4 linked regions of the Homo sapiens genome follow. The protein of the gene in region 3 interacts with the protein of the main gene of each other region in a pairwise test. Each region holds a gene or a part of one and is shown on either strand. Other genes may lie near its edges. The genes, in order: TPD52L2, PLIN1, ABHD5 and PLIN5.

Evidence for each region.
Region 1: the proteins of ABHD5 (region 3) and TPD52L2 interact in binary tests that used the Homo sapiens proteins (3 or more experiments, as listed by UniProt).
Region 2: the proteins of ABHD5 (region 3) and PLIN1 interact in a protein complementation assay, tested with the Homo sapiens proteins (3 studies listed by BioGRID, with this or other methods).
Region 4: the proteins of ABHD5 (region 3) and PLIN5 interact in binary tests that used the Homo sapiens proteins (3 or more experiments, as listed by UniProt).

The regions. Positions count from the first base shown.
Region 1 is NC_000020.11:63,860,255-63,868,974, forward strand, and holds the start of TPD52L2 (tumor protein D54), read left to right. Parts: upstream 1-5,015; 5' UTR 5,016-5,111; coding exon 5,112-5,130; intron 5,131-8,720. Other genes in the region: ABHD16B, read left to right, coding at 1,287-2,696.
Region 2 is NC_000015.10:89,675,931-89,683,859, forward strand, and holds the start of PLIN1 (perilipin-1), read right to left. Parts: upstream 3,438-7,929; 5' UTR 3,321-3,437; intron 1,574-3,320; 5' UTR 1,560-1,573; coding exon 1,515-1,559; intron 1-1,514. Other genes in the region: PEX11A (peroxisomal membrane protein 11A), read right to left, coding at 7,447-7,929. UniProt on the Homo sapiens protein: Modulator of adipocyte lipid metabolism. Coats lipid storage droplets to protect them from breakdown by hormone-sensitive lipase (HSL). Its absence may result in leanness. Plays a role in unilocular lipid droplet formation by activating CIDEC.
Region 3 is NC_000003.12:43,706,924-43,714,937, reverse strand, and holds part of ABHD5 (1-acylglycerol-3-phosphate O-acyltransferase ABHD5), read right to left. Parts: intron 3,230-8,014; coding exon 3,075-3,229; intron 1-3,074. UniProt on the Homo sapiens protein: Coenzyme A-dependent lysophosphatidic acid acyltransferase that catalyzes the transfer of an acyl group on a lysophosphatidic acid.
Region 4 is NC_000019.10:4,521,628-4,525,835, forward strand, and holds the end of PLIN5 (perilipin-5), read right to left. Parts: intron 4,206-4,208; coding exon 4,006-4,205; intron 3,450-4,005; coding exon 3,336-3,449; intron 2,459-3,335; coding exon 1,901-2,458; 3' UTR 904-1,900; downstream 1-903. UniProt on the Homo sapiens protein: Lipid droplet-associated protein that maintains the balance between lipogenesis and lipolysis and also regulates fatty acid oxidation in oxidative tissues.

The sequences.
Region 1 (8,720 bases), on a different chromosome or scaffold from region 3:
TCTGGCAACCTAGAATGGGGGTAATAGCCCCCCAAATCGCTCCCTTTGTTAATTGGTCCCTGTCTTCTGTCCCCCAACCCCTAAAGGCAGCAGCTGACTCCCCCAACTAGGGGCGGGGCCTGTTAGGGTCAGGCAGTGCCTCTAACCCAGACGCTGAGCAGGAGAGCAGAGAGGGGGTGCTTCAGCCTGAAACTACCCCTTCCCCAGAAGGCTGGGGTCCCAGGCGGGCCTGGCACCTGGGCTCAGAGGCTCTGGCTGGATTTGCCAAACTCCCTGATTGTAGCATGTTTGTTTCTGGTCTGGGGAGCTGTTGAGTACCTGGAGCTGCCCTCTTCCCTGGGGCTCCTCCTGGCAGGCGGCTTCCGACCCTGCCCTCAGGTGGGCTGGCCCTTTCCAGGGCAGGAGAAAAGATACCTCTCCAGAAAAGAGGGAGGCGCAGCCTGGGAGTGGGGGCTCGACCCAGGAGCGAGAAAGAGGAACCCCAGCCAGGCAGGACCCGCCCCAGAAGGTCACTGCTGTTGCTGGCAGCCAGTGAAAAGAGGATCCAGAAAAGGAGAGGGCTTGTTTCTGGTCAGCACCGAAGAAGGAAGGTGTGGAGAGGAGGGGCCGGGCCGAGAGCAAATACCGCCTTTTTGGTGCAGCAGCAGCCCTGTCTCTGACCCCGGCCGTCCTGGGGAGATGAGGTTTAAACCAGCAGACCCTGAAGGGAAACTTGCAGGACCCACAGCAAGCCTGGTACAGGCGGAGGAGGCCTTGCTGTCCCTTTTTGGCCCGTGGGGCTGTCCATCTTAAATTTAAGGAAGAGGGAGGCGGGGTGCAGGGACTCACACCTGTAATCCCAACACTGTGGGAGGTGGAGGCGGGGTGCAGGGACTCACACCTGTAATCCCAACACTGTGGGAGGTGGAGGCGGGAGGATCGCTTGAGCCCAGGGGTTCAAGACCAGCCTAGGCAGCATAGTGAGACCCCATCTCAATTTAATAAATAAATAAGGAAGAAAGAGGGAGACAGTAGCTGCTCAAATCATGGGTGGGAAAGCTGGGCCTGGGAGCGTTTAGCTGGTGGGGTCTTGGCGAAGGCGGGGGACGGGCAGAACCTTGGGTTCATCATCTCTGGGAACCCTTTGTGCACCCATCACCTAGCAACAGGATGCAGCCTTCCCTCCGCCCTGGAAGGCCAGGTCACAAAGGCCATCAGGGCTTGTCCGGGAGCCGGTATCCCCTAAGACTGCCCTGTGCCTCTCGCGGCGATCCCGGCCCAGCGGCTGGGCGTTAGGGCCACCGCTCATGTGCGTCATCTGCTTCGTGAAGGCGCTGGTGCGCGTGTTCAAGATCTACCTGACCGCCAGCTACACCTACCCATTCCGCGGCTGGCCCGTGGCCTTCCGCTGGGATGACGTGCGCGCCGTGGGCCGGAGCAGCAGCCACCGGGCGCTGACCTGCGCGGCAGCCGCGGCGGGCGTGTGGTTGCTGCGGGACGAGACGCTGGGCGGGGATGCGCTGGGGCGGCCTCCACGTGGGGCGCGCAGCCAGGCGCAGTGCCTCTTGCAGCAGCTCCGCGAGCTGCCCGGCCAGCTCGCTAGCTACGCGCTGGCCCACTCGCTGGGCCGCTGGCTCGTGTACCCCGGCTCCGTGTCCCTGATGACGCGCGCGCTGCTGCCGCTGCTGCAGCAGGGCCAAGAGCGCCTCGTGGAGCGCTACCACGGCCGGCGCGCCAAGCTGGTGGCCTGTGACGGCAACGAGATCGACACTATGTTCATGGACCGCCGCCAGCACCCGGGCAGCCACGTGCACGGGCCGCGCCTCGTCATCTGCTGCGAAGGCAACGCGGGCTTCTACGAGATGGGCTGTCTGTCTGCACCGCTCGAGGCCGGCTACTCCGTGCTGGGCTGGAACCACCCCGGCTTCGGCAGCAGCACTGGCGTGCCCTTCCCTCAGCACGACGCCAACGCCATGGACGTGGTGGTCGAGTACGCACTGCACCGCCTGCACTTCCCGCCCGCGCACCTGGTGGTCTACGGCTGGTCTGTTGGCGGCTTCACGGCCACCTGGGCCACCATGACCTACCCGGAGCTGGGTGCACTGGTGCTGGACGCCACCTTCGACGACCTTGTGCCGCTGGCGCTGAAGGTCATGCCCCACAGTTGGAAGGGGCTGGTGGTGCGCACCGTGCGCGAGCACTTCAACCTCAACGTGGCCGAGCAGCTGTGCTGCTACCCGGGGCCGGTGCTGCTGCTCCGACGCACGCAGGATGACGTGGTCAGCACTTCGGGCCGCCTGCGCCCCCTGTCACCTGGTGACGTGGAGGGCAACCGGGGCAATGAGCTGCTGCTGCGCCTGCTGGAGCACCGCTACCCCGTCGTGATGGCGCGAGAGGGCCGCGCCGTCGTCACCCGCTGGCTGCGCGCTGGCAGCTTGGCGCAGGAGGCCGCCTTCTATGCACGCTACCGCGTGGACGAGGACTGGTGCCTGGCGCTGCTGCGCTCCTACCGTGCACGCTGCGAAGAGGAGCTGGAGGGCGAGGAGGCCCTGGGGCCACACGGACCCGCCTTCCCATGGCTGGTGGGCCAGGGCCTGAGCTCGCGGCGGCGCCGGCGCCTCGCACTGTTCCTGGCTCGGAAGCACCTCAAGAACGTGGAGGCGACTCACTTCAGCCCTCTGGAGCCTGAGGAGTTTCAGTTGCCCTGGCGGCTGTAACCTATATGCCCCAGTGGGGGATCACGCACTTGAACTCCTGGCCTTCTTGGTTCACCTCCCCATACCGCCAACCATTGCAGGGGGCCGGCGCCGACGCGGGGCGGGGCGGGGGGGGGCGCGCGGGGTGCTCCTGATCTGCTGTCTGGGGGAGGGTAGGCAGAACACGGGGACTTGGTGCTCTCCTTCCTTCACAGGGGCGTTCTGACCGTCCTCCCATTCTTCCTAGCTCTGTCCCCTCCTTTCTCTCTTCCTCCTACAAATACTTTTGGCTGCCCCCACCCAGCTCCTAAGGGAATGAAAGGTTAACCTGACCCGGTTTATGGCAATACTGTGTGATGGGTGCCTTGATCACCACAAAAGGATGATGGGAACGGGGCTGTGGGGTCCCAGGGAGGAGCCCTTCACCTGGCCTGGGTTACAGGATGGCTCCTGGGAAGACAATGCCAGCTGTGCGCTGAAAGTCTGTGCAAGCTGCTCCCGTGAAAAGGAGGACATTGGCATGGCAGGGCTGTGGGCAGGTCTTAGTGGCTGGACATTCCCAGGAGTTAGCACTGGCTATCATTCTGTAGGGCTCCCTCCCACCTCCAAACTCCTGGCTTCTACACCAGGGCATTCACAGACAGATTGCAGACTCACATGGTGGCATGTGAGGCTACAGATACACTTGCACAGGCCAGAGGATACTACTGCGTGTCCCCTGGAGCCAGGCCTGGGCTGGACTTTGTTCCTGGCTTAGGGATGCAACACAGAATGGGACAAGGCCTCTGCTCACAATGGTCTGTAATGTCACATCTCTGTGGTCTGCCCTGAACTGCCTGAAGCAGGGACTATTGTCCCTACATGTCCCTAGTCCCCGGGCTGGCCTGGTTGGGTTGAGCAAGAATCTCTGGAAAGAATGAAAGGCAGCAAATGGAGAAAACATTACTGAGAGCACGAGAGCAGGCTAAGGCCGTGGTGGTAAGGGACTCGGGCCTGTGCAAGAGTACCAGGAAGACACCTGTGGGAGGAGGTGGCCGGGTGAAGGAAGGGGCAGTGGGAGGAGCTTCCATGCCTAGGGACCAGTACCACCCCAGGCTGGAAGCCCAGAGTGGAGTCCTAGGACATCAGATCCTAAAGGGCTTGAATACCGTTTAAGGCTTTTCTTCCGGGAGCAAGTAGGAGCCAAAGAAGGGAAGTTGCGGGACTTGTTTTCGTGGGGCCAGTTGCCTGGTGGTTACGCGCCTCTCCTCTGAAGTCAGGCATCCTGTTCCAGAGTATCCTGGTTGCGCTTCAACTTGCGGAGTGACCTGGGGCAAGTGACTTTAACCTCAGCTTCCTCATCTGTGGAGTGGGGAGGGCGCAGCGCTGGTCGCCCTGAACAGGAAGTGAGACAACCTCGGGGTGCACACGCGCAGGCCCGAGCCGCAGGGTCCACGCCCGAGGCGAGGCGGCAGCGGCGCCTGCAGGGCGAGGGGACGAATCGCGATCTTTTTCAGAGTAACCCGCGTACAATAAAAAGTCCCCATGAAAAGGACAAACTAGCCAGGCGTGAGGGGCGGTGGCTCACGCCTGTAATCCCAGCACTTTAGGAGGCCGAGGCGGGTGGATCACCTAAGGTCAGGAGTTCTAGACCAGCCTGGCCAAGGTGGCGAAACCCCCGTCTCTACTACAAATACGAAAATTAGCCGGACGTGTTGGCGCGCGCCTGTAATTCCAGCTACTCGGGAGGCTGAGGCTGGAGAATCGCTTGAACCCGGAGGGCAGAGATTGGAGTGAGCTGAGATCGCGCCATGGCACTCCAGCCTGGGCAACAAGAGTGAAACTCCGTCTCAAAAACAAACAAAAAAGGACCAACTAAAAAAAGAATATAAATACAATAAATAACAGGACTTACGGGGGCAGGCTGACCCCTAAAGTAAGGGGTCGGGCTGGAAAGGATCTCAAGGGGTCAGAGTTTGAGCCGCCGAGGCGCGCGAGCCCCAGCACTCCTAGGCAGCTGCATCCGCCCCGGAAGATCCCCTGGGGCCCTGCGCTGGCTTTCCACAGCGCCATGTTGGACGGTCCTCCCACTTCCCACCTTCCCAGTCCTCCCGCTACTCTGACCGTTCTACCTGTGATTCTCGCTGGTGGAGTCAACCTGGAATGGATTCCCGCCGAACCACGCCTCCCTTTCCTGGTTCGCCCGCAGTTTCGGCCTATCAGGTTGAGTCGGGTAAACCAGGACGGGCCAAGCGGCACTCTCATTGGATATCACTGGTGGGGGCGGGAAGAAGGCGGAGCACGTGCCCGGGCGGAAGTAGCCGTCGCATCGCGGATTACGAAACGCCGCGGAGCTGAGGCAGTTCCGCTGGCTAGTGTGTACGCGGCGAGCTTCTCCCGGCGCCGCCCGCTCGGCTCCCATAGCGCCCGCGACAGCGGTCCGGACGCCGCCCGAACATGGACTCCGCCGGCCAAGGTACCTGCCGGGCCCGGCCCCTTCGCCGCAGATGGGCCCAGGCTGCCCGTTGTTCTCCGTCTCCCGGGGTCGCGTCTGCGACTCTCTGTCCTCTCGGTCTCGGTTCACCCACCCCGCGGCCCCTCTTCAGCTCCCGGGGCCACTGACCTCGAAGCTTATGATGGTCGTGGTGTGTTTTTTGCCCGCGGCCCAGACCGCTTCCTGGGCTCTCTCCAGCCGCCCTCCTGGTCTCCCCTGGGACCGTTCCGAGGTGTGGTTCCCTGGCGCCCGCCGTTGCTCCCGTAGTTTGGGTTCTGTCGCTCCCAGCAGGTCTCGCTTATGCCGCCCACCCCGTGCCCTGCTCTTGCTTGCTCTGCCACCCCCCGGTCCCTGCGCGGGGCCCTCGGGTTCACGCTGTCTGGCCCTGGACCCAGTCCGAGGTGTTGAGGGCGGCTCCCGAGCAGAGAAGGGGTCTTCGCGTTCAGCAGAGCTCCCCTTGGGCAGCAACTCTGCTCGGAGCTCAGCCTGCTTAGGGGTTGCCTCATGGAGAGGGGGTGGAGTGAGTCAGGGGCACACCCAGCATACCAGGCCTGTTTCCAGAACAGTCTCCCCAGAGCAGTATGAGATGGCCACTGAGGGGCGTGGAGCGAGCCCAGGAGATTAAAATCTTGAGAAGATGATAAAAGTCTGCCTTGCATTTTGGGGCTCTAGAGAGGGATGCTAAATTTCTTTCTTTCTTTCTTTCTTTCTTTATTTTTTTGAGACGGAGTCTTGCTCTGACGCCAGGCTGGAGTGCAGTGGCGCGATCTCAGCTCATTGCAACCTCGACCTCCCGGGTTCAAGCGATTCTGCTGCCTCAGCCTCCTGAGTAGCTGGGACTACAGGCACGCGCCACCAGGCCCAGCTAATTTTTGTATTTTTAGTAGAGGCAGGGTTTCACCATGTTGCCCAGGATGGTCTCGATCTCTTGACCTTGTGATCCGCCCGCCTCAGCCTCCCAAAGTGCTGGGATTACAGGCGTGAGCCACTGTGCCCGGCTACATATTAAGCTTTATAATTCCTAGGTGCTGCATTATTCTGGAGGGTGTTTTTTGTTTGTTTGTTTTTGTTTTTTTGAGATGGAGTCTCACTCTGTCGCCCAGGCTGGAGCGCAGTGGCTAGATCTCGGCTCACTGCAAGCTCCGCCTCCCGGGTTCACTGCCATTCTCCTGCTTCAGCCTCCCAACTAGCTGGGACTACAGGCGCCCGCCATCATGCCCGGCTAATTTTTTGTATCTTTAGTAGAGACGGGGTTTCACTGTTAGCCATGACGGTCTTGATACCCTGACCTCGTGATCTGCTTACCTCGGCCTCCCAAAGTGCTGGGATTACAGGCGTGAGCCACCGCGCCTGGCCTTTTTTTTTTTTTTTTTTAATTTTTTTTTTGGGGACAGCGTCTCCCTCTGTCTCCCAGGCTGGAGTGCAGTGGTGCAATCATAGCTTACTGCAATCTTCAACTCCTGGGCTCAAGCGATCTTCCTGCGTCAGCCTCCCAGGTAGCTGGGACTATAAGACTACAGGCGCACCATGCCAGGTTAATTGGTCTTTCTACTTTTTTTTTTTTTTTTGAGACGGATTTTCGCTCTTGTTGCCCACGCTGCAGTACAATGGCGCGATCATGGCTTCCCGCAACCTCTGCCTTCTGGGTTCAAGCGATTCTCCTGCCTCAGCCTCCCGTGTAGCTGGCATTACAGGCGTGCGCCACCATGCCCGGCTAATTTTGTATTTTTAGTAGAGATGGAGGTTTCTCCATGTTGGTCAAGCTGGTCTCGAACTTCTGACCTCAGGTGATCTGCCCGCCTTGGCCTCCAAAAGTGCTGGGATTACAGGTGTGAGCCATTGTGCCCAGCCTCATTTGTCTTTTTTTAAATAGAACAGAAAGGCTGGGCTCGGTGGCTTACGCCTGTAATTCTAACACATTGGGAGGCCGAGGCCAGTGGATCACTTGAGGTCAGGAGTTTGAGACCAGCCTAACCAACGTGCCAAAACCCCGTCTCTACTAAAAATAAAAAAATTAACCGGGCATGGTGGTGTGCTCCTGTAGTCCCAGCTACTTGGGAGGCTGAGGCAGGAGAATCGATTGAACCCAGGAGGTGGAGGTTGCAGTGAGCGGAGATCGTGCCACTGCACTCCAGCCTGGGTGACAGAGTAAGACTCGTCTAAAAAAAAAAAAAAGAGAATCAGTGGATAAAAAAGTGGATACGCTTCGTTTAGTAAGCGTTTGTGGAGCGCCAAGGAAGTGCACACGGCTCCAGTCCTATGGGACATTTGAAGGGAGTGAGATGCAGCCAGCTTTTAAGAAGAGTATCTTTGTTAAGTGCATTTAATCTGGTGTCTTTGTGTTGTCTTTTAAAAGGCATAGTTTTTTTTTCTTTTTCTTTTCTTTTGTTTTTTTTTTTTGAGACAGTCTCAAAAAAAAGAGACGGGGTTTCACCATATTGGCCAGGCTGGTCTTGAACTCCTGACCTCAGGTGATCCGCCCGCCTCAGCCTCCCAAAGTGCTGGGATTACCGGCATGAGCCACCCCGCCCGACCAGTTTTTCTTTTTTTTTTTAAAGAATTTTTTTTTGGCCGCGCGTGGTGGCTCAACGCCTGTAATCTCCCGGGTTCAAGTGATTCTCCTGCCTCAGCCTCCCAAGTAGCTGGGAACTACAGGCGCGTGCCACCACGCTAACTAATTTTGTATTTTTAGTAGAGACGGGGTTTCACCATTTTGGTCAAGCTGGTCTCGAACTCCTGACCTCATGTGATCCACCTGCCTCGGCCTCCAAAAGTGCTGGGATTATAGGCATGAGCCACTGCGCCTGGCAGTAAGCCTGTTTCTTTTCAGAATGTTTTGGTCAACAGGGAAAGTGTTACAATAGTCATGTGCTTGGATTTGGAGAGAATCGAAATAGACTGTTTTTCTTTATGTGAAATCTTGTAGACTTTTAGGGTAGTCAGGAAGATGCATTTGACATGAAGAAAAAACAGTGGCTGCAGGAATTTGAATGTGATCTGGGTGTAGTTGAGGTGTGTGGTGGCAGCACACCGCTCTGCACCTCTCTGCCTGCTGGCGGCCTTCTGGCAGTGGGATGAGAATCGGGAGGTAAGTAAAGGGAATTTTGTTTTGCTGCCTCCCTGAAGGAGCTGAATGAGCAGCATGTGCTCCTAGTACGTAATTTTAGCATGTGCTCTGTCAGATGTGTTGAGAGGAAAGTGATGCTTATTGTGTATATTAACCATATTAGGTTCCTTTTTTTAAAAAAAGTGGAAATTTGTCAGGGTATGGTGGCTCACACCTGTAATCCCAACACTTTGGGAGGCCAAGGCGGGCGGATCACCCGAGGTCGGGAATTGGAGACCAGCCTGGCCGACATGACGAAACCCCGTCTCTACTGAAAATACAAAAATAGCCAGCGTGGTGGCGTGCGCCTGTAATCCCAGCTACTCGAAGGCTGAGACAGGAGAATCACTTGAACCCGGGAGACGGAGGTTGCAGTGAGCTGAGATCGCACCATTGCACTCCAGCTTGGGAGGCAGAGTGAGACTCCATCAAAAAAAAAAGGTGGAAGGTCTGTTAGATTGAGCTG
Region 2 (7,929 bases), on a different chromosome or scaffold from region 3:
CGAGGCGGGATTGGCCACGAATTCATGGTCTTCGGGGCTAATAAAGGGTACGTGGGGCTTCCTATGTTCTTTTCTGTCTATTCTTATGAATGTTGAGAATTCTCCATATCAAAAGTAAAAAGAAAAAAAAACCCAGGTCAGATTCCGATGCTCAGGCTCTCTGTAGCTTTGAATATGACACTGTGGCATGGTTTTGCTCGCAAAGTGAAGACCTGACCTGTTCTGTTAGTAGGAGGCAGAGTTCAAAGACCCCCATCAATGACACCTACATGTACACTAAGACAGAGCAGCCCACAATATCTTAGTTTTTTTTTGTTGTTTGTTTGTTTGTTTTTTTGAGATGGAATCTCGCTGTCTCCCAGGCTGGAGTGCAGTGGCGCGATCTCAGCTCACTGCAAGCTCTGCCTCCTGGGTTCATGCCATTCTCCTGCCTCAGTCTCCCAAGTAGCTGGGACTACAGGCGCCCGCCACCATACCCCGCTGATTTTTTGTATTTTTAGTAGAGATGGGGTTTCACTGTGTTAGCCAGGATGGTCTTGATCTCCTGACCTTGTGAACCGCCCGCCTTGGCCTCCCAAAGTGCTGGGATTACAGGCGTGAGCCACTGCACCTGGCCAATATCTTAGTTTTTTATCCTGCAGGTGAATTTGAAATTTGAACTAGAAATAGACTATGACTATAAACAAGAAAACATTCTTTTTAACATTTTGGACGAGGCTTCAGAGGTTGTTTTACACAAAACCGAAGGAGGAAAGAGATCCTGGGAAGGGAATAAACCACCGTCTGTTAGAATGGCTTAACCATGTACTTGACCATTTTACGCCTCTCTCTGTTCTATGATTCAATACAAAACAAAGTGATTCCTAGTGCAGGAGTTAGTAAAAGCGTAACTTGGGCAAGGTGGATATTGCACAGGTTCATAATTTTTAAGTTTCACTATCCGAACTGTGCCCAAATCTGAGATGCCTTGCCAGGAGCCATCAAGCATCCCTAAAAGTATCAAATCACTTCAAGTCACAGTGAAAACCAGGTCAGAGATAGAACACCAGACACATGGAATATCCCACCCTTCCCCCCACACAGCAGCACAGGCTGTGCACCGTCTAACTCCGACAGGTGACATTTGCCGTTATGAATGATGCTGGAGACACAGAATACAGTGGCTCTGCACTGAATGCACATCCAGCTGGGTGGTGGACAGAGCATGGGCTTCTGCGTCAGGGTTTAAACAGTAGTTTCCTTCCTCTCCACTCCCCCCGTCCCTAAGCCAGGATTTCTGTCCCTTTTTTTCAAGGTGCTTAATTTTTAATAGGCATCTTTTTTTCCCCTCCCAGATCCTCCAACTGCCCCCTACAAAAGGTGGTGAGGGCAAGAATAACTAAGCCATGGTAGTCAATGAACTAGGATTATAATCTGGGAATATCTTGCTCTAAGTCCCCTGCATCTCCCCTCCCTGCTTCTTCCTCCTCCCTCAGTTGTCCATCCCCTGTCACAGATGAGCCCAAGTTACTTACAGGGAGGTCTCCATCCAGCAAGGTGAGGCCTTTGTTGACTGCCATCCTCGCTCCTCAAGCTGCAAAACAGAGTCCCAGGTCCCATCAGAAGCCCTCAGGCTTGAGCTCCACTGGGTCACTTCCCTACCTCTCATGGCCACCAACTAGGCCCAGGCTGCCTGGGGGCCCATTTGCCCTGAACAGAAGGCATTAGGTTGGAGGGTGAATATCACACACAATAGCCCCACTCCTTAGGGTCCCATAGCAATGAGTTGCTCCATAGCTTACTTGTCAAGACTGATGTTTCTTTCTTTTTCTTTTCTTTCTTTCTTTTTTTTTTTTTTTGAGATGGATTCTTGCTCTGTTGCCCAGGCTGGAGTGTAGTTGCACAATCTCGGCTCACTACAACCTCCGCCTCCCGGGTTCAAGGGATTCTCCTGCCTCAGCCTCCCAAGTAGCTGGGATTACAGGCGCCCACCACCACGCCCGGCTAGTTTTTTTTTTTTTTTCTGTTTAGTAGAGATGGGGTTTCACCATGTTGGCTAGGCTGGTGTCGAACTCCTGACCTCAAGTGATCCACCTGCCTAGACCTCCCAAAGTGCTGGGATTACAGGCATGAACCACCACACTGGCTAATTTTTGTATTTTTAGTAGAGATGGGGTTTCATCATGTTGGCCAGGCTGGTCTCGAACTCCTGGCCTCAAGTGATCTGCCCACCTTGGCCTCCCAAAGTGCTGTGATTACAGGCAAGAGCCACCATGCCCGGCCAAGAATAATGTTTCCTATAAGAGTTCAGGTTAAGAGGCCAGGCGCGGTGGCTCAGGCCTGTAATCCCGGCACTTTGGGAGTCCAAGGCAGGCAGATCACCTGAGTTCAGGAGTTCAAGACCAGCCTGGGCAACATGGTGAAACTCCGTCTCTGCTAAAAATACAAAAATTAGCCAGACGTGGTGGTGGGCAGCTGTAATCCCAGCTACTTGGGAGGCTGAGGCAGGAGGATCGCTTGAGCCTGAGAGGTGGAGGTTGCAGTGAGCTGAGATCCTGCCACTGCACTCCAGCCTGGGTGACAGAGGGAGACTCTGTCTCAAAAAAAAAAAGGAGTTCAGGTTAGGAAATAAAAAATGCAGGTAGCCATAAGAGATAAAAAGTTTTAGATAAAATCTTAAGGCTCTTAAATGAGGGTCCAAAAGAGACTAAAACAAGAAGTTTCAAGCTGGGTGCACTGGCAAGCACCTGTAATCCCAGCTACTGAGGCTGACATGGGAGAATTGCTTGAGCCCAGGAGTTTGAGATCAGCCTCGGCAATACAGTGAGATGCCCATCTCTAAAAAAATAAATAAACAAGTTAAAGGTTTCATCTTTGAAAAGGCTCTGGGTTAATTCCTCTATTTCTCTCTTTCTCTCTGTCTGTCCCTCTCCCCCTCTCCCTATCTGTTTTTTGAGACAGGGTCTCAATCTGTTGCCCAGGATGGAATGTGGTGGCACGATCATGGCTCAATGCAGCCTTGACCTCCTGGGATCAAGGTACCCTCCCACCTCAGCCTCTCATGTAGCTGGGACTACAGGCATGCACCACAATGCAGGGCTAATTTTTTCTCTTTTTTTATAGAGACAGGATCCCACTGTGTTGCCCAGGTTGTTCTTGAACTCCTGGGCTCAAGTGATCCACCTGCCTTGGCCACCTGCAGTGCTGGGATTAAAGGCATGATCCACTGTGCCTATCCAATTCCTCTATTTCTAGATTCTGGTATCTATACCAGAATCTCTCCCTCAGTAGTTTCCCTGCAGAGTTTTTCATCCCCAGCAAAATCCCCAAGAGGCCCTTACCTTCAACTTCTTCCCTTTAATGTTCATAAACAAGCCATGTAAGGCAGGTGCCCCAGGACCCCAACACTCACTCCGGCTGACCGCCACCTCAGTCTCACAGAGCCCAGGCTGCAGAGTGTCTCCTCAGGCAGAAACAATTCCTGTCACTCCTGGGAGGCTTGGGCAATGCTGCTTCCACCTCCCAGCTAGAGGAGGGCAGAGAGGGAGAGACAACAGGGTCAGCCAGTTGTCATGGTTATATGACCCAGGGTTCCCCAGGCATATCCTAACTTCTCTAAGGACATTTAGCAAACAAGGAGGTAGGTGGCAGAGCTGAAGGAGATCCAGGCTCAGAGGACTTAGTATTCCAGAGCCATGAAGCATCAGTTCTGTAATGTTCCTGCCCTCAATTCACAAAAATCTGCTTTCCAGAAAGAAGGTATAGGGATAGACATCATTAAACTCAAAAGCTCTAAAGTTCTATATACCTCTGCAATCTTTTGGCTCCTTTTCCATAGAGGGTCTTGTGGGAGTTTTCAATCCATTTCTCTCATCTTTTCTTATTTACTAGCAAGACTGAATGCTGAACAGTAAAATTTAAACCCACACAGAAGAGTTCATCTGAATGTATTCATCTTTGATTATGGAGATAAATTGCCCTCAGTGAAGAAGCGACAGAGCCGGGAGTTGAGTTTTTGACAATATAGCCTTTGAGTTGAGGGAGGAATTCCCACTTCTTAGAATTCAAAAAAATTTATTGAACTTTACCTGGCCTAAGATGCTACCAGAATGAAGAGTAGGAGAGCCAAGTAGATTTTTATTCTCCTGGGTCTGGATAAGCGACAGTGTTGACTAGGATTCTATCACTAATCAAGAGCACCCAGACAGCCAAGAATTAGCACCACTCAACCCTTCTTTACCCAGGACTCAAGCACAAGCCCAAGTTCTAGTTCCTGGCTTTAGATATGATGGAGGACTATGGTATAAGCCATAGCTTTCAGATTAACTAAGAAGGGCCTCTTCATGAAAACAGACAATAGGAAAACAAAACTTATTTTCTTTGTTGCTGGTGGAATTATATGTATTGTTGACTCTGTTAAGTCACACAGTGTGGGCAAGAGAAGAAAGAGGCAGGGGTGGGGAATTATGAAAGATCCTTGGTAATAAATTACGTATCTGTGATGCAATAAAGTAGGGAATGAGAAGGCAGGAAAGGGAGGAGTCAAGCAGGGAGGCTTCAAAGGAGTAATACGCTATACGTTTAATACTTATTGATCCAACCTGTGCTTTTCAAATGTAAGGCAGTAGAGAAGACAAAGTATTTAAAGAAGTGGCCTCTGCCCTCACCTCAAGGTTCAGCACAAATTATCTGTGAGGCTGTGACTGGACAGCAACCTGAGCCAAAGGGCAGTTTTCAGCCTTCAGAGTAGTGGCTTTGGGCCAGAGGGAACATAGGGCTTTGTGCCTGAAAGCTCTGCCAAATCAAATAGTCCTTTGGCTGCTTTAGCTGGGAGTGCAGAATGTGGGTGAGAGGTGAGAAGTGGTGAAAGGGCCTAGGAGAGTCCCGAGGGAAGACAGAAGTGTTAGTTTTCTAGCAGTAGCTTGCAGGGCATAGAGTTCTATCTTCTTTCCTTCTCCGTACCTACCTGCTTTCCCTACCCCTCCACCAAGTGAGAGCAGGGACCTAGGTCATCTTGCTCACAAGTGGATACCCAAAACCATGCATGGCACTCAAACATTCATTGTTGAATAAATGAATTGTCAGGCAACAATGCTCAGTTGTGAATGTGCTGGGCTGTACATCTACGAAGAACTTCTTCGATTTTTGGCATCCCTCATGAATGTGGAGGCTCTGGGGTGGAAAACATTAGTTACAAAGAAGGATTCACAGGGTGGTACCAGGACACCATTAAGGTTTACACAAACCTCTTAGAAGAGGTAGTATTTCCCAAACTCCCCACCACTCACCATTGCAGAGGACAAAAGTACCAAGATGGATACCACTGTAACATAACATACCACCATGAATTCAAGGCAGACTTACCTAGGCAGAAGCCAGCCAGCGATTGACAGGGCTACTGTAGAGCACCATCTCCATGGCAGCAGTCTAGATGAGTTCATTTCAGAGGTCCCTCTCAACCCAGAGGCTCTACATCTCAATCTTTCTCCATCCTCCTCCTCAGCCTGGATCTTCTAGCCCAGAGCTCGCTGTACCAACTGTGTAGGCTGATTGAGGATTATCTGATGGATTGCCTTATGTTTAACTCTTCTCTCTTCCCAGAACACACTCACAGACACAAGTCAATTTTGTCTAGAAATTTATTGAACATAGTTAATCTATTACAGTAGAGGATCTGGACAATAAAAATAGTTATTTAAGCTTTTTATTTTCCCTGACCTAGTAGCTTTCATGTCTCTTAAAATTCCCTAAATTTTATTTCTCAAATCCCATATCGTGATTGGTTAAACAGACAGCCAAGAATCTGAGTCTATTTTTTGAGAATCTCAATCACATTTCTGGGAAATGTGACTTATTGAGTACATATTTATTTTCTCATTTCCATTCAGATAAATGACACAGCTTTGCTGGGAGGACTGACATCGGCCTCCTACCTGCTGGCATCCTATTTCTCTACCTCACCTCCCTCAAACTAAAGGATCTGTAACCACATATAAAGACCCACACCCAAGATGGCAGATAGGAACACAAGTCAATGTCATTGACTCAGCATTCCATTGTCCTCTTCACTGGCTTCCTCCTGCGCTTTCCACCTCCCTCAATCACCCTAGAAATAAGATGTCTGATTTATCGTAGAAAATTGTGACTCTCTTACATCTGGAGTATTCATGAAATTTTTTTGACTGGATAAATTTTGATGAAAATTAATGTAGAATTGCCTAAATTGTTAGAAGGATTTAAATAAAACAATCTAACTGATAAGTCTAAATACTGTCTTAATTTTTTTTTAAGACACAGGGTCTTGCTCTATCACCCGGGCTGGAGTGCGGTGGAAGCTCACTGCAGCCTTGAACTCCTGGGCTCAAGTGATCCTCCTGCTTCAGCCTCCAGAGTATCTGGGACTACAGGCATACTCCACCATGCCTGGCTAATTTTTTAACACTTTGTTGTAGAGAAGGAGTCTCACTACATTGCCCAGGCTGGTCTTGAACTCCTGGCCTCAAGCAATCCTTCCGCTTCAGCCTCCCAAAGTGCTGGGATTATAGGTGTGAGCCACCACACTCCACCCAGTTTTAGTTTTTCTAGAAAAGAATATAAACCACTGGACAAGGAAATTTCCAAATTATGGGAGAGTAAGAGGCAAAAAACAGGATTCAGGAGGGGATCACATTTCTACTCAATTCTGAAGACAGTGGGAGAGCATGGAGAGAACACTGGATTAGGAGTCAGAGGAATGAGGCTCTAGCCTCAGTTTTTTGTTTGTCTCACTGTCAGCTTCTTATCTGTCACAGGCTACATATAGGCACCCATTGTGACCCTGTACCTATTTTTATAAGTCCCTCCGGTCTGCTTCTGATTTTTGCTTATTCACTGCACCCATAGACACAATTTATACCATGAAGGTGCCTGATGCTTTTCTGATTCTACTTCTGCACAGAGCAAGGACATGAGTGCAGTGATGGTATAAGGGCCAACAAGTTGAGAGGCTGTAAGCCCAGCTCTCCTCCATCCTGCTACTGACATCAGAGCCTCTACTAGATCTGAGAGTGCCATGCACCAGACCTACTGTAATCGTGAAACCAATGATCCATATGACCCTAAAGTTATTGTATACTGGTGTTCAATGATCAGTGCGATTGGGTCTTTTTAAATTTTTTCCTTTCAATTTTTATTCATTCAGCAAATACTAAGCTCCCACTATGCACATAAGAGATGTTCAATCAATGTTAGATGAAGGGAAAATATTCAGAAATTCACAAGTCACTCCAGCACTCCAAAAACATACAACTCTTCATGCTCCTCCCTTCTCCGTTCTTGGCCTCATCTCTGCCCACATCACAGGTTGTTAAATGCTCACATGAACAAGAACTTAAGCACAGTATGACATGGCCTGTGACTTATACAAATGTCTGTCCCACCAAGAGGCCATCTTTTAAAGTAGGTACTAGTTCCAAGCCTAAAAACACCCTAACGGGTCTTCAGCTTCATCTGAGGATATGCCACAGTGATCATGCCTGCTATAGAGGACACAAGACCTCCAAGTCCAATGATGCCAGGATTGGATTTATAGATCCCCAGCTGGTCCAAAGGGTTCAGGATATCACAAAGGTTCTTCACTGTGTCCAGGAGCAAGGGAGGATGCTGCTTCAGAGATCGGAATAAAAGAAGTAGAAAGGATTGGAGCCATTCTGTTTCCTCCTCAGCCACGCTGAACCAAAGAGGATCCTGGGATGCTGATTTCTCTTTCTTTGCCCTGTCACATGTAACTCGTTTCATCTGCAGGGAGATTTCATACAGATCCCTGACCAGGCTCAGCAGAAGAGAATAGTAGTAGTGGTGAGCAGCCCTCGTTCGCCATTTCTCTTTGTTGATGCCAGAGGTGAGACCTACGCTCCTCACCCAGAGGATGGTGTCACAGATGAAATAAATCACACGGTTCAGGTTGGCTAA
Region 3 (8,014 bases):
AGGAAATTTAAAAAATGCATGTTTTAAATTATAGTTAACTTATCAACTAAATAATATAGAAAGTTTTAGTGCTTGTCTGTGTAATGAGTGTTATATGCACACATATATATATGTATTCAAATATATATTGTAGGTGGGAAAAAGCACACATTCTGATAGCTGTCCTCCTAAAGTTCCCCAAGGAAATATTAATATAAGAAGTAAAGAGTATTGTATTTTGACTTGCAGATGTACTTTAGGGCCTCAAAAACATGTAAGTTAGAAGGCACTTTTGTAGGTAAATAAATTCTTTAAACGTGGCGAGTAGCTCGTACGTAAAAATTAATGTAATAACTTGTATTTCTTCCATAATTATAACACATTAACTTCTAAATGAAGTAAACTGGTATACATAATTATTTCTGTGTGAAAATAAATTCAGCTTCTTCTTGGGACACTAGCGAGACTCCCTGCTAAGGTTATCCCTGGTGGCGCCCACAGCCCCACTCTAGAAAAAGCCGAGGACACCCAGGCGTGATGGCTCAAGCCTGTAATCCCAGCACTTTGGGAGACCGAGGTGGGCGGATCACAAGGTCAGGAGTTCGAGACCAGCCTGACCAACACGGTGAAACCCTGTCTCTACTAAAAATACAAAAATTAGCCGGGCGTGGTGGCGTGCACCTGTAATCCCAGCAACTCAGGAGGCTGAGGCAGGAGAATCACTTGAACCTGGGAGGTGGAGGTTGTAGTGAGCCAAGATCGCGCCACTGCACTCTAACCTGGGCGACAGAGCGAGACTCCGTCTCAAAAAAAAAAAAAAAGAAAAAAAGAAAGAAAGAAAGAAAAGAAAAGAAAAAGCCCAGGGCAAGGCCCACAAGGGAAAGAGGATGAAGAGCAGAAGCTTTCTTCTAGTCACACTTTTCTATTCTGAGGCCCCAGAGACTGACTGGTCTCCCTTTCTGCTACCACTACCCCATGACTCCAGCAAGGCTTTACTTCTCTACTGGCCCTCTCTTCCCATCTCTGATGAATTATACAGCTCCACCAAGAAATTCTGTCATGCAATTGATTCTACATCACCTCCCCACCCCCAAGTGCAAGCAATAATGGCAGGCTGAGGGCATGGCATTAAAGAGCCTCTCCTAGGTGTCCTCCCTTGCCCATCACTGTCTCCTAATTTCTCTTCATACTTTACTTTTCCCATAATTGTTATTTTTGTACCTGTGTTCTAGTAAAATCTATTTATATTTCAGGACTATAAAGACTAAATGAAGCTCTTAAGTAGTTTACCAGAGAAGGACCAGGCATAGTAAGGAGTGGCTCTACTGGGGAGGGCTGAAAGACTGCAGGTGGGCAAAATGTGCCATCTGTGAGCACTGAAGCAATAAAGTGTGGTCACCAATTCAACCCCCATATCCTCCTCTAAGTCCTGCAGTCCCACTGCTCTCCCAATCCAAACAGAAGGCACTAGGGCAGGAGGGGTCAGGGTTGGGCAGAAGGGAACAGCATTTACAGTCACCTGCATGACAGTTAATCCCACAACCTCCTCCACACCCCCATGCCTCTTCTCTTTTCTCACTAACAGAACCCATCTTTTCTTTTTTCTTTTCTTTTCCTTTTTTTTTTTTTTTTTTTTGAGACAGGGTCTTGCACTGTTGCCCAGGCTGGAGAATAGTGGTGCGATCTTGGCTCGCCACAACCTCCACCTCCCAGGTTTGAGTAATTCTCATGTCTCAGCCTCCTCTCCTGAGTAGCTGGGATTACAGGTGTGTGCCACTATGCCTGGCTAATTTTTTTGTATTTTTAGTAGAGATGGGGTTTTGTCATGTTGGCCGGGCTTGTCTCAAAGCCTGGCCTCAAGTGATCTGCCTACCTCAGCCTCCCAAAGTGCTGGTATTACAGGTGTGAGCCACAGCACCTGGTTAGAACGCATCTTTTCTATAGTATCAATTAGGCAGCAACATGCCCAGGAAAGCAGGCCCTGGAAACAAATCATGATTGGTGCATCACAGAAATTTCTTCTTTGCTGGTGGAAGGACTAGGAGTGGGCCGAGTCATAAGCAGAGGTCAGGTGGAGCCTTCCAGAGAGGACTTTCTTCCCTGACAAAGCATTATGGAGAGAAGGACCATTTTTCGTGCTTTTATTTCTTTTTGCTCAGGGCGCTGATTTGTGAGATGATGCTTAATGCTATGGCAGGCATCAAACCACCGTGAGGAAAAAAGTCAAGAAAATCACAGACACAGACCCAAACCCTAACATCAATGAGCAAGCAACCAGAACAAGTGCTAAAACCTATCTCCAGATTGCTTATTAAGGAAATAATAAAAGTCCTTCTAGTTTAAGCCTCTTGGGTATTCAGTTACTTACAACTAAAAGTACTCCAAATTCATACAAGTTGTACGGGGGAAAGGCAGAAGTTCAGAACATCATTATCTGTGACAATGAGGGAAGGAAATTCCCATGGCTATGGGGCTGAGACAGAACTGCTGAGAGTCAAATAAAAGTCAATCAGGGACTAAACACTGGTGCCTCAAAATATGACCAGAAATATATATCAGGAGTCCCCAAAATGTTGTGGAAAAAATAACTTTATCTTTCCAACACTCTGACATGGATAAGGGAAGAATCTGTGAGTGTGGTGGTACCTGTTATCCCCAGGGTCAATCAAATCAGGTTTTATGGTACCAAATGGTATCATCAATTGGCCAAACGCTCTCCAGTGCTCACCAGCAGGGCAACATGCTACACTTCTCCCAGGCCCTGGACTAGCAGAGGTCCTTATATACTCCCCAAAACACTCTGCTTGCCTGGCTTTTTTTAGAGTGTTGAGGACTGACTAACCTTATCCTCAGCATTCCCTCCTTTTCTGCTTTGCTAATTATTCACAATGTTTACAATATAAAGACTCTCCTTTGAGGAGAAGAACCTAGTTGCATTCGTCTTTGTGCAAGACATGGTACTTATTAGAGGAAGAGGAGAAAAAGTAAGGGTTCAGGGTTTTCTTGTTTGTTTTTAAGATTTTGACTAACAATAGTGAATTCTGCTCTTCTCATAACTTACAAACATTTTGCTTTCCTAGAACATAAGCACTCACCAAAGGGTCCTGCAATCCTTAGGCCAGCTAAAGGGTTAAAGGGAGTCAATGCTGCTCCCAAGGCTCTGATCCAAACTGGAATTGGTCTGTCTTGATCAGCAAGGTCTGGTCGTTCAGGGAAACCCCAAGGCTCCACTAAAATGAGATGATTAACCCTGTTGGGGGAAAGAATATATTTAAGTTCATTTGGTAAAATCACCCTAAGACTATAAAGAGCTAACATGATTTATAAAATAAAGGTAGAATGAACCACCTTCAAAAACCTTCACGTTAAAGATTAGTGCTAAATAGATCGTATCATGCTCTTATTCTGTGTAAACTTTTGAGATTCAGTAGGATCTAAGAGGTGTATGGTAGAAAGAGGGCTTTATTTTTAATATATCTAAATGTGAATAATAAAAGATATATAGAGTACAGAACTGTGTGTTTCTTGAGAAAAAGAAAAAAGGGCATTTGTTATTTAAGTTACACTCTGGCAGATGATGTAGATCACTGGCCACTCAGAAAAATCCAATGGTTCCATGTATGTCTAGGTTGACACTGCAAAAATGGCTAAAGATCAATATCACATTCTTATAAAATAGCCTCAGATACCAACAACAGTTATCTCCTATGAATCAACCATCCTAAAAATGTAAGTGAAGTTAAGGACTTAAAGCGGGTTCAAAAGTACTTTAAATTAACTTTTCATAAACATGAGGATAACGTAACGTGGACTGAAAACACTCCCTAGTTCAGGATTCTAGAATTGTTGAAAAGGAACAAGTCTATCTACCTTATCCATGATATCACGCTATACTGACATTAGATTCTGTTTTCAATTCTTTCCCAATTTTCTTTTTCATTGACCAAGAGATAGAAAATATTCAGTAGAACTTCATATACAATTATTTCATATTGTTAATCATTTTAATTTTTCCATCTTATGAAACTTCTTCCCAATGAAGGAAAACCAGAACTATCAGCAGTACTTCCACATAGCTGCATCATGCTTTAAACATCATAAAGATTCCAAACAAAGTACAAAGATCCTTCTGATACAATACAATGTTCAACTGTAACCAAGCCAGCCAAGAAATGCCAGCCAAAAATCTCCCAAGGATAACTGACAATGACTCTAAAGTCCCTTTCCTAAGTTATAACTGAAACAGAAAGGTAAAGAATCTAAAACATGGGCACAGATGGTATTATTCTTCATATAAAATCTATTCTATTATTGTTGTCAGCATGCATAAGAATAAGTTAGTAACAGGTCCATACTGTGACTGTTTTCTTTCCAGACAGAAAGCTTTGGTGCACAGAGCTCTATGGTACCTTGGAGAATATTGGGTGCAATCATCTTAGATAAGAAGGAAGCTGAGATGTACTACATGACCTGCTCCGGTACATAACATTAGTTAACACAGAACTAGGGCTGAAACCCACATTTCTCTACCCCAGCATACCAGCAGATGCCGACAAGGAATTGGGCAGAAGGCTTTATTTTCTAAAAATAGGCTAATCAACATAAGAGAGACATATTAGTAAAGGTAAAACTTAACCTTTATCAACTCTCAAGGCCAGTCCTAATATTATACTCCAAACTTCATAGCATTAACATATGTAGAATATAACCATAGAGATGTATGAAGATATGTGATAAATGAGTTTCATTTAATTATGAAGTATGCCTTCACAGCCTAAAAATTTCATATGAGAACATTTTCTAATAGTGTATCAGAAAGAGGTTAGAAATGAGTGTTTTGCTTTGTTTTTTAATGGCAAAGACTAACTCTTATATTTTGACCACCTCCTAAATTCCTTTTTATTTTTATTTGTTTTGAGATGGAGTCTCACTCTGTCGCCCAGGCTGGAGTGCAGTGACACAATCTCAGTTCACTTCAACCTCCGCCTCCCAGGTTCAAGTGATTCTCCTGCCTCAGTCTCCTGAGTAGCTGGGATTACAGGCACACACTACCACGCCTGGCTAATTTTTGTATTTTTAGTAGAGATGGGGTTTTACCATGTTGCTCAGGCTGGTCTCGAACTCCTGACCTCGTGATCTGCCCACCTTGGCCTCCCACAGTGCTGGGATTATGGGCCTGAGCCACTGTGCCCGGCCCTAAATTCCTTTAATTATAGCCCACAATAAGATCTGGGGTAGGGGAAGGAAGAGGCCTAACAGGGGTATGAGTAGAACTAATGAGACAGCCACCTAGTTGAAAGCAGCAAAGATTCATGTTAAGAAACAGCCACTATTATTCACTACTGACTTATCTCCCAAAGAGAAAAATGAACTCTTTATTAAAACATACCCTACCCTAAACAATTTAGTTAAATTTTTGTCACAAATTTGTTAATGGATCTTGCTCTAAGCTCTTTCTGACCTGCTAACCCAAAAACAGGTAGGACAAAGGAAAACTTGACAGAAGTCTCATCTGTCTGTAGGTAAGTGACTGTTTTTGCCTTAGTTCTGGCTTGCCTTTTAAATATGATCTTCAAAATTTCATCCCTAGGTGAAAATGCCAGTTTAACAAATTATGCAAAGTATATATACTAAGGCAGATGATCTTTTTGTTTCTTTTTGAAAAGGAGTGAACCGTGCCTACAATTGCTCAATTCTACTGTCCCTACAATTGCTCAATTCTACTGTCCCTACAATTGCTCAATTCTATGTCTTCATAACCTAGCATGAGGCTTAGCACATGGCAGATGCTTGGTAAACATTTGGATTAATATGCTTTTCCACATTTTCTTTTAGTCCTAGTCTATTAAGGATATACAAATTTTATAAAGTATAATCATAGCATAAGCATATCCAGCTGGATTTTTCTGGTCCCCCAGATGACATCAGAACATCACTGCTATTTATTAATCTTATTATTCGGTAACAAAATCCATTTAGATGGTCAAGAACCAGTCTAGTCTTTTTTAAAATAAAATTATACTGTTTGGAACAGAAAAATAAATCATAAGCATTGAATACCGGCCACAAAATTGTATTAATGTATATGTGCATGGGTGTCTGAAACAAGTTTTGTGGGGTGATACAATTGTATTTTTCTATTCCAAACAATATAGAAGGGCTATAGTAAAAAAAGTTTGAACATAATTTTTTAAAACTCTACAACATCTAAACTATAGTTAACTGTAGTTATATATCATCTGCTTCTACTACATGTAAAGACCCCAGAAAATAATTGTTCCTTATTTTTGGTTTTAAGAATTTTAAATAAGATAGACCATGCAAAGCACTCAGGTTGGTGGCCATCGAATAGTAAGTATTCAGTAAATGTAAGCTAGTTACAGTAGCAAGAATAGGAAGACTACAAGAGTAGAATTTATTCCCGGGAACATGGAAAGACAGGTATTTATTCTTCAGAAGAGCTTGATCACAGGTGACTGCAATGTTGCACCAGACCAAGGTCCCAGGCTATCTTCTAACCTCCGCTTTTAGTAAAAATATTATCTCCTCACTTGATAGGAGTTACTGGGTTTTAATGTACATCTAAATTATTATAATTAGCTAAACCCTACTCTTTAATATTCCAGAGAGGGTTCCCTGCTGGGATTGTTAGTTCACATCTAGGGTAAAGAATGGGTCCAACCAGATAGCACATGTGAGTCATCCTATTAGACATCCTTGTCAAGAACCAGAGACTGGTTTAAACCACAAGAAAAACAAAGAACCAGCAGAGCAGGAACAACAGAACAGCTCATCAGTTTTGAAATATACAAAGGCATTCTTCTTAATGTTAGTCATTAGAATTGGCCTTGAGTTTGAAGATGGTGAGCAGAGTACATCCTTAAGGGCAAAGCAGTGGACAACACCTGTACCAACACACTAGGACCTGATTTCACTTGCTCTAAATGCTAACAAGGGTAGATAAGCCTGACCTTCATGAGATTTAAAGACAGCCACCAGTCAGAAATAATGCAACAAGAACAATAATCAGGTCAGGCGTGGTAGCTCATGCCTGTAATCCCAACACCTTGGGAGGCCAAGGCAGGTGGATCACTTGAGGCAAGAGGTTCAAGATTAACCTGGCCAACACGGCGAAACCCTGTCTCTACAAAAAATACAAAAAAATAGCCAGACATGGTGGTGCACACCTGTAATCCCAGCTACTCGGGAAGCTGAGGCACGAGAATCACTTGAACCCAGGAGGCGGAGGTTGCAGTGAGCCGAGATGGTGCCACTGCACTGCAGCCAGGGCAACAGAGCAAGACACTGTCTCGGGGGAAAAAAAAAGAAAGGAGAACAATTAGACCTAGAATCAAAATGTGTAAGTGAATCTAAGGAAAATAATCAGAAAGAACTCTAGTCAATGCACAAAGGAGGCATTTGCAAAATGAAGTTGGCCCCAGGTATTTCCCATTGGCTCCAAGCCATTGGTGAGAGAAAAGGGAATGCCCAGAGAACAACAAACTAAATATCTCCAACTTCGAATCAAGTAGAACAGCTTTTCCTAGAACAGCAGAGGGCCAACAAAAATTGCTCAGCTCAGTTCTGTACAATCAGAAGACAGAGCCAGGCAAAAGAAAAGTATTCAAGATAAAATTATTTAAAAACCTTTTACTAGAGAAATAAAGACTAGTGAAAACTTATTCTAATCTAACTTGGAATAGATCTCTTTGCTAAACACTTTCTAAGTTAAAGTTTCTATAATCTCCTTTTCCGTAGTTTATAACAAATATCTTTAAAATACAGATAGTTTTTTTAATGGGGTACTGAGCAGCAGGGGCCAGAAGGAAAGGAAAATTAAAAGAAAAAACCGGGCCAGGTGCAGTGGCTCACGCCTGTAATCCAAAAGTTGGCAAAAATTGATCAGCTTTTATTTGTTCTTTAGAGTAAGAATCCTTCTTAAACAAGTGCATTAAACTAGGCCTTTTCATTCTTCTCTTCAAACTGTCCTATAAAAGTAACGAATGGAAGAATGGAGCTGCCCATAAAAGACAAG
Region 4 (4,208 bases), on a different chromosome or scaffold from region 3:
CAGGGAGGTAGATTTGGCTGGTGGAAGTGGTCGGAGATCCCAGAGCTGCCCTCTGGACTATGTCCCAGGGAAGTCAGGGGCCACCCTGACCTCACCATACCAAGCTGTGGTTTCCCAACACCCCGCCCAGCCCCAGGGGAGTCGGAAGAGCAGCCAGGAATGCGGTCAGAGGACAGGAGGAAACCCCCGAGACCAGCCTATGGCCCTTGCCCTGCCTCTGTCTTCCCATCCTGGCCAGTGCAGCTGGAGAGACCACAGCAAGACCAGCTCCTGCAGGACCAGGAGGTAGAGAGAGAGCTGCCCCATCTGACTCCTTCCCCATCTTTTCTGCTCCCTGCAATTCCATGAAATTCACCTGTACCAAGATGAGAACAGCTTCCATGCGGCCAAAGGGGCAATGCTGTTGTTTATTTTTAGAGACAGGGTCTCACTCTGTTGCCCAGGCTGGAGTGGAGTGGTTACTGATCCAAGCTCACTGCAACCTCAACTTCCTAGGCTCAAGCGATCCTGCTGCCTCAGCCTCCCGAGTAGCTGGGGCACAGGCTCGTACCATGTGTCATTTTAAAATTTTTCGTAGAGACAAGGTCTCCTATGTTGCCCAGGCTGGTGTCAAAACTCCCGGGCTCATGAAATCCTCCCACCTCAGCCTCCCAAAGTGCTGGGATTACCGATATGAGCCATGGTGCCCGGCTAATTTTAAGTGGTAATGCTTACCCCACATGGGCTGGGCAGTAACGGTGGATCCCAGACAGGATGACAGGCAGGTCAGAGAAGCACCATTCTTCTAGATCTTGAACTCTGGCTCTACACACCCCCTTCTCCATGTCTCAGCAGTGACACACCTCCGTGGCCCCCAGCCCCCTGGGACTGAGACTCACCCTGGCTGGAACACACACGTGGGCCTTTCAACAACAAAAAGGACCTTTATTCTGGAGGCAAATCCCAAACAGCAAAGCAAGCGAGTATGGCAGGCTGAGCAGCACGGCCCATGGGCAGAGGAGGGCTCACTTTTCAAAGTTCCAAATAGGGCAAAATGTGTGTTTCCCTAGGAAGTATTTTTTAAAAACATTTTTGAGATAGAGTCTTGCTCTGTCACCCAGGCGAGAGCGCAGGGGCAAGATCATGGCTCACTGCAGCCTCCAACTCCTGGGCTCAAGCAGTCCTCCCACCTTGGCCTCCCAAAGTGCTGTGATAACAGGTGTCAACCACCACACCCAGTCAGGGCTCACTTTTCAAAGCCCCAAACAGAAGGCATTGGGCAAAATGTGTATTTCTTCGGGAGGCTGTTACTATTATTTTTTGTTAGATGGAGTCTCGCTCTGTCACCCAGGCTGGTGTGCAGTGGCGCGATCTCTGCTCACTGCAAGCTCCGCGCCTCTCGGGTTTAAGCAATTCTTCTGCGTCAGCCTCACAACTAGCTGGGACTACAGGTGCACACCACCACACCTGGCTTTTTTTTTTTTTTTCTTTCTTTCTAAGTAGAGACAGGGTTTCATCATGTTGGCCAGGATGATCCCGAACTCCTGACTTCAGATGATCCACCTGCCTCAGACTCCCAAAGTGCTGGGATTACAGGCGTGAGCCACTGTGCCCAGCCTCTTGGAAAGATTTGGATTCGCTTCATGGAGCCAGGGAGCAGGACATAGGTGAAGAACCCAGCTTGTGGCTCAAGTTGGCCTGAATAGGGTTCGAGGCCCTGCTCCCCCGGGCCTCTTTGTCCATGTGTTCAAGGAAAAAATGGGAGAGTCCAATACCAAAAAGGTGGTCAGAGATCCGGAGTTGGGCCTGATTCCAAAGAAGGGTCAAGGCCAAGGCCTCGAGCTTACGTGTGGCCACCAGGGGGCAGCAGGGATCGGGGTGTGCAGGTGGCCTTTCCTCCCCGCCTCCACTGGCCCATGGGTCAGAAGTCCAGCTCGGGCATCAGGGTGTGCTTGACCGGGCAGCTGGGGGTCTCGGGTTCCTGCTCGCAGATGTCCCCGGCAACACCCATCCTGTCCCCATCCCCATTCCCACTCCCGTCCCTGTGCTCTGCCTCCCAGGCTCTCTGCTGGGCCGGCCAGTCCAGGTGCGCCCAGCGGGGGTCAGGGCCCCCGATGACCTCGTCCACCAGGTCCGCCAGGTCGGGCAGGGGCTCGGGTCGCTCCACAAGGATGGGCGCGAAGGGTCCCACCAGCCAGGGCAGCGGCACGGCCTGCACCACCAGCTCCAGCAGCTCGTCCACGCAGGCGTGCGCGTGGGCCACGCGACCCCGGCCCTCGGCCAGCGCGGCCGCTGGCACGTCCCTGAAGCAGCGGGCATCAGCGAAGGCGGTCTGCAGGGCATCCACACTGCGCCGCACCTCAGCCACCTTCTCCTGGGCGCCGGCGGGCAGGCCCCGCACGCTGGACTCCAGAGCCTCTACCGTGCCCTGCAGCTCCTGGGTCAGGCTGCGGGACAGCACCAGCGTCTCCAGCTCTGCCTGCAGGGGGCGGGGACCTCAGTTTCCCCTATGGACGCCCAGGAGGACTGCTGTCCTGCCTCGGTTTCTCTGATGGACCCACAGTGGAGCTGTCAACCTGTCTCATAGACCTCATAGTCCTGTCCCCTGTAGACACAGAATGTGACCCAGCCCTGACTCAGTCTCCTTCATAAACACACAATGGGGCCGGTCGCGGTGGCTCACGCCTGTAATCCCAGCACTTTGGGAGGCCGAGTCGGGCGGATCACCTGAGGTGCGGAGTTCAAGACTAGCCTGGCCAACATGGCGAAACCCCGTATCTACCAAAAATACAAAAATTAGCTGGGCGTGGTGGTGGACACCTGTAGTCCCAGCTACTTAGGAGGCTGAGACAGGAGAATCGCTTGAACCCGGGAGGCGGAGGTTGCAGTGAGCTGAGATCGCGCCACTGCACTCCAGCCTGGGCGACAGAGACAGACTCCTTCTCAAATAAATAAATATAAATAAAGTGGAAAGTGGAGAGATGGTTTCTAGGCTATAGGTTCAGGGAGAGAATGTGGAGGGAGGGAAAGCGAGAAGGGGCGGGAAGCCAGGGACTACTGCTTGCTTGGGCCAACACCCCCCTTTCCCCCCACCTCCCTCCATCTCAAAAATAAATAAATAATAAAATAATAAAACTCCATCTCAAAATAAATACATAAATAAAACACACAATGGGACTTAAACCTGCCTCAGTTTCCCCCCCCAGACACCTCAACTAGCTGAGCTCAGCACTTGGTTTGAGATAGCTTGAGTTGGGTCCCCGGCAGTACTGGGCTGACCCGCAGTCCGTCGCTCCCCCTCTTCCTCCGCGGCCTGGTGGCAGACACCACCTCACCTGGCACTCCTGCGGTCTCACCTGGCTCCGGCGGCGGCTCTCCGGAGGGCGCTGGCCCCATTCCCCCCACAGCTCGTGCACCTTCCCAGGGCAGGCCGGGGCGGTGGGGGTCACCCCACACTGCATGTGGTCTATCTGCAAGGACAGAAATGGTGGTCTTCAGAGCTGGGGGAGCTGGGGGAGCTGGGGGTCGGGGTGGGGTCCAGGACCACTGATCTGGCCTCAGTAAGCATTTAGGAGACCGAGGCAGGTTGTGCAGGGCCGTGGGGAAGACTTGGGCTTGGACCCCAAGGGAGGTGGGAGCCATAGAGGGCTGTGGGTAAAGAAGGGACAGACCTGACTCAGGGGCTCACAGGTGCCCTCTGGTGGCTGCTGCGGGGAGGGAAGAGCTGAGGATGGGAGGATTCTGATGAGGAGGAAGGCTCTCTTCTGACCTACCCTAACTTGCTATAAATTCCAGCTTCTCCTTCCCCTCTTCCACAAAACCCCTCCCTGACTCTCCAGGCAGAGCCATGACATCCCTGGGCTCCTCCAGGCCCGGGTCCCCCAGCCCTGAACACATGCAGCTGGAGACAGCTGCACCCAGCTCCGCCTCCTGCTTTAGGCTAGCACGGGATCCGGTATTCAGCTGGTGCTCAATCCATACTGATTGGCCTGCATCCCGGAGCAGGGGCGGGCAGCGGGCTCTCACCAGCTCCAGCGTCTCCTGCAGCTGGGCCAGGGTGTCCTGGGCACGGTGTTTGCTCTGCCTCAGTTTCCCCACAGAGTGCTCGTAGGCCAGGTGGCGGATCCGTGCTGACAGGGAGCCGAGGCGCACAAAGTAGCCCTGCTGTCTCCTCTGATCCTCCACCGAACCCACTTCAGGGCCTTCAGCCTCAGCCGCCAGTGCCGCTG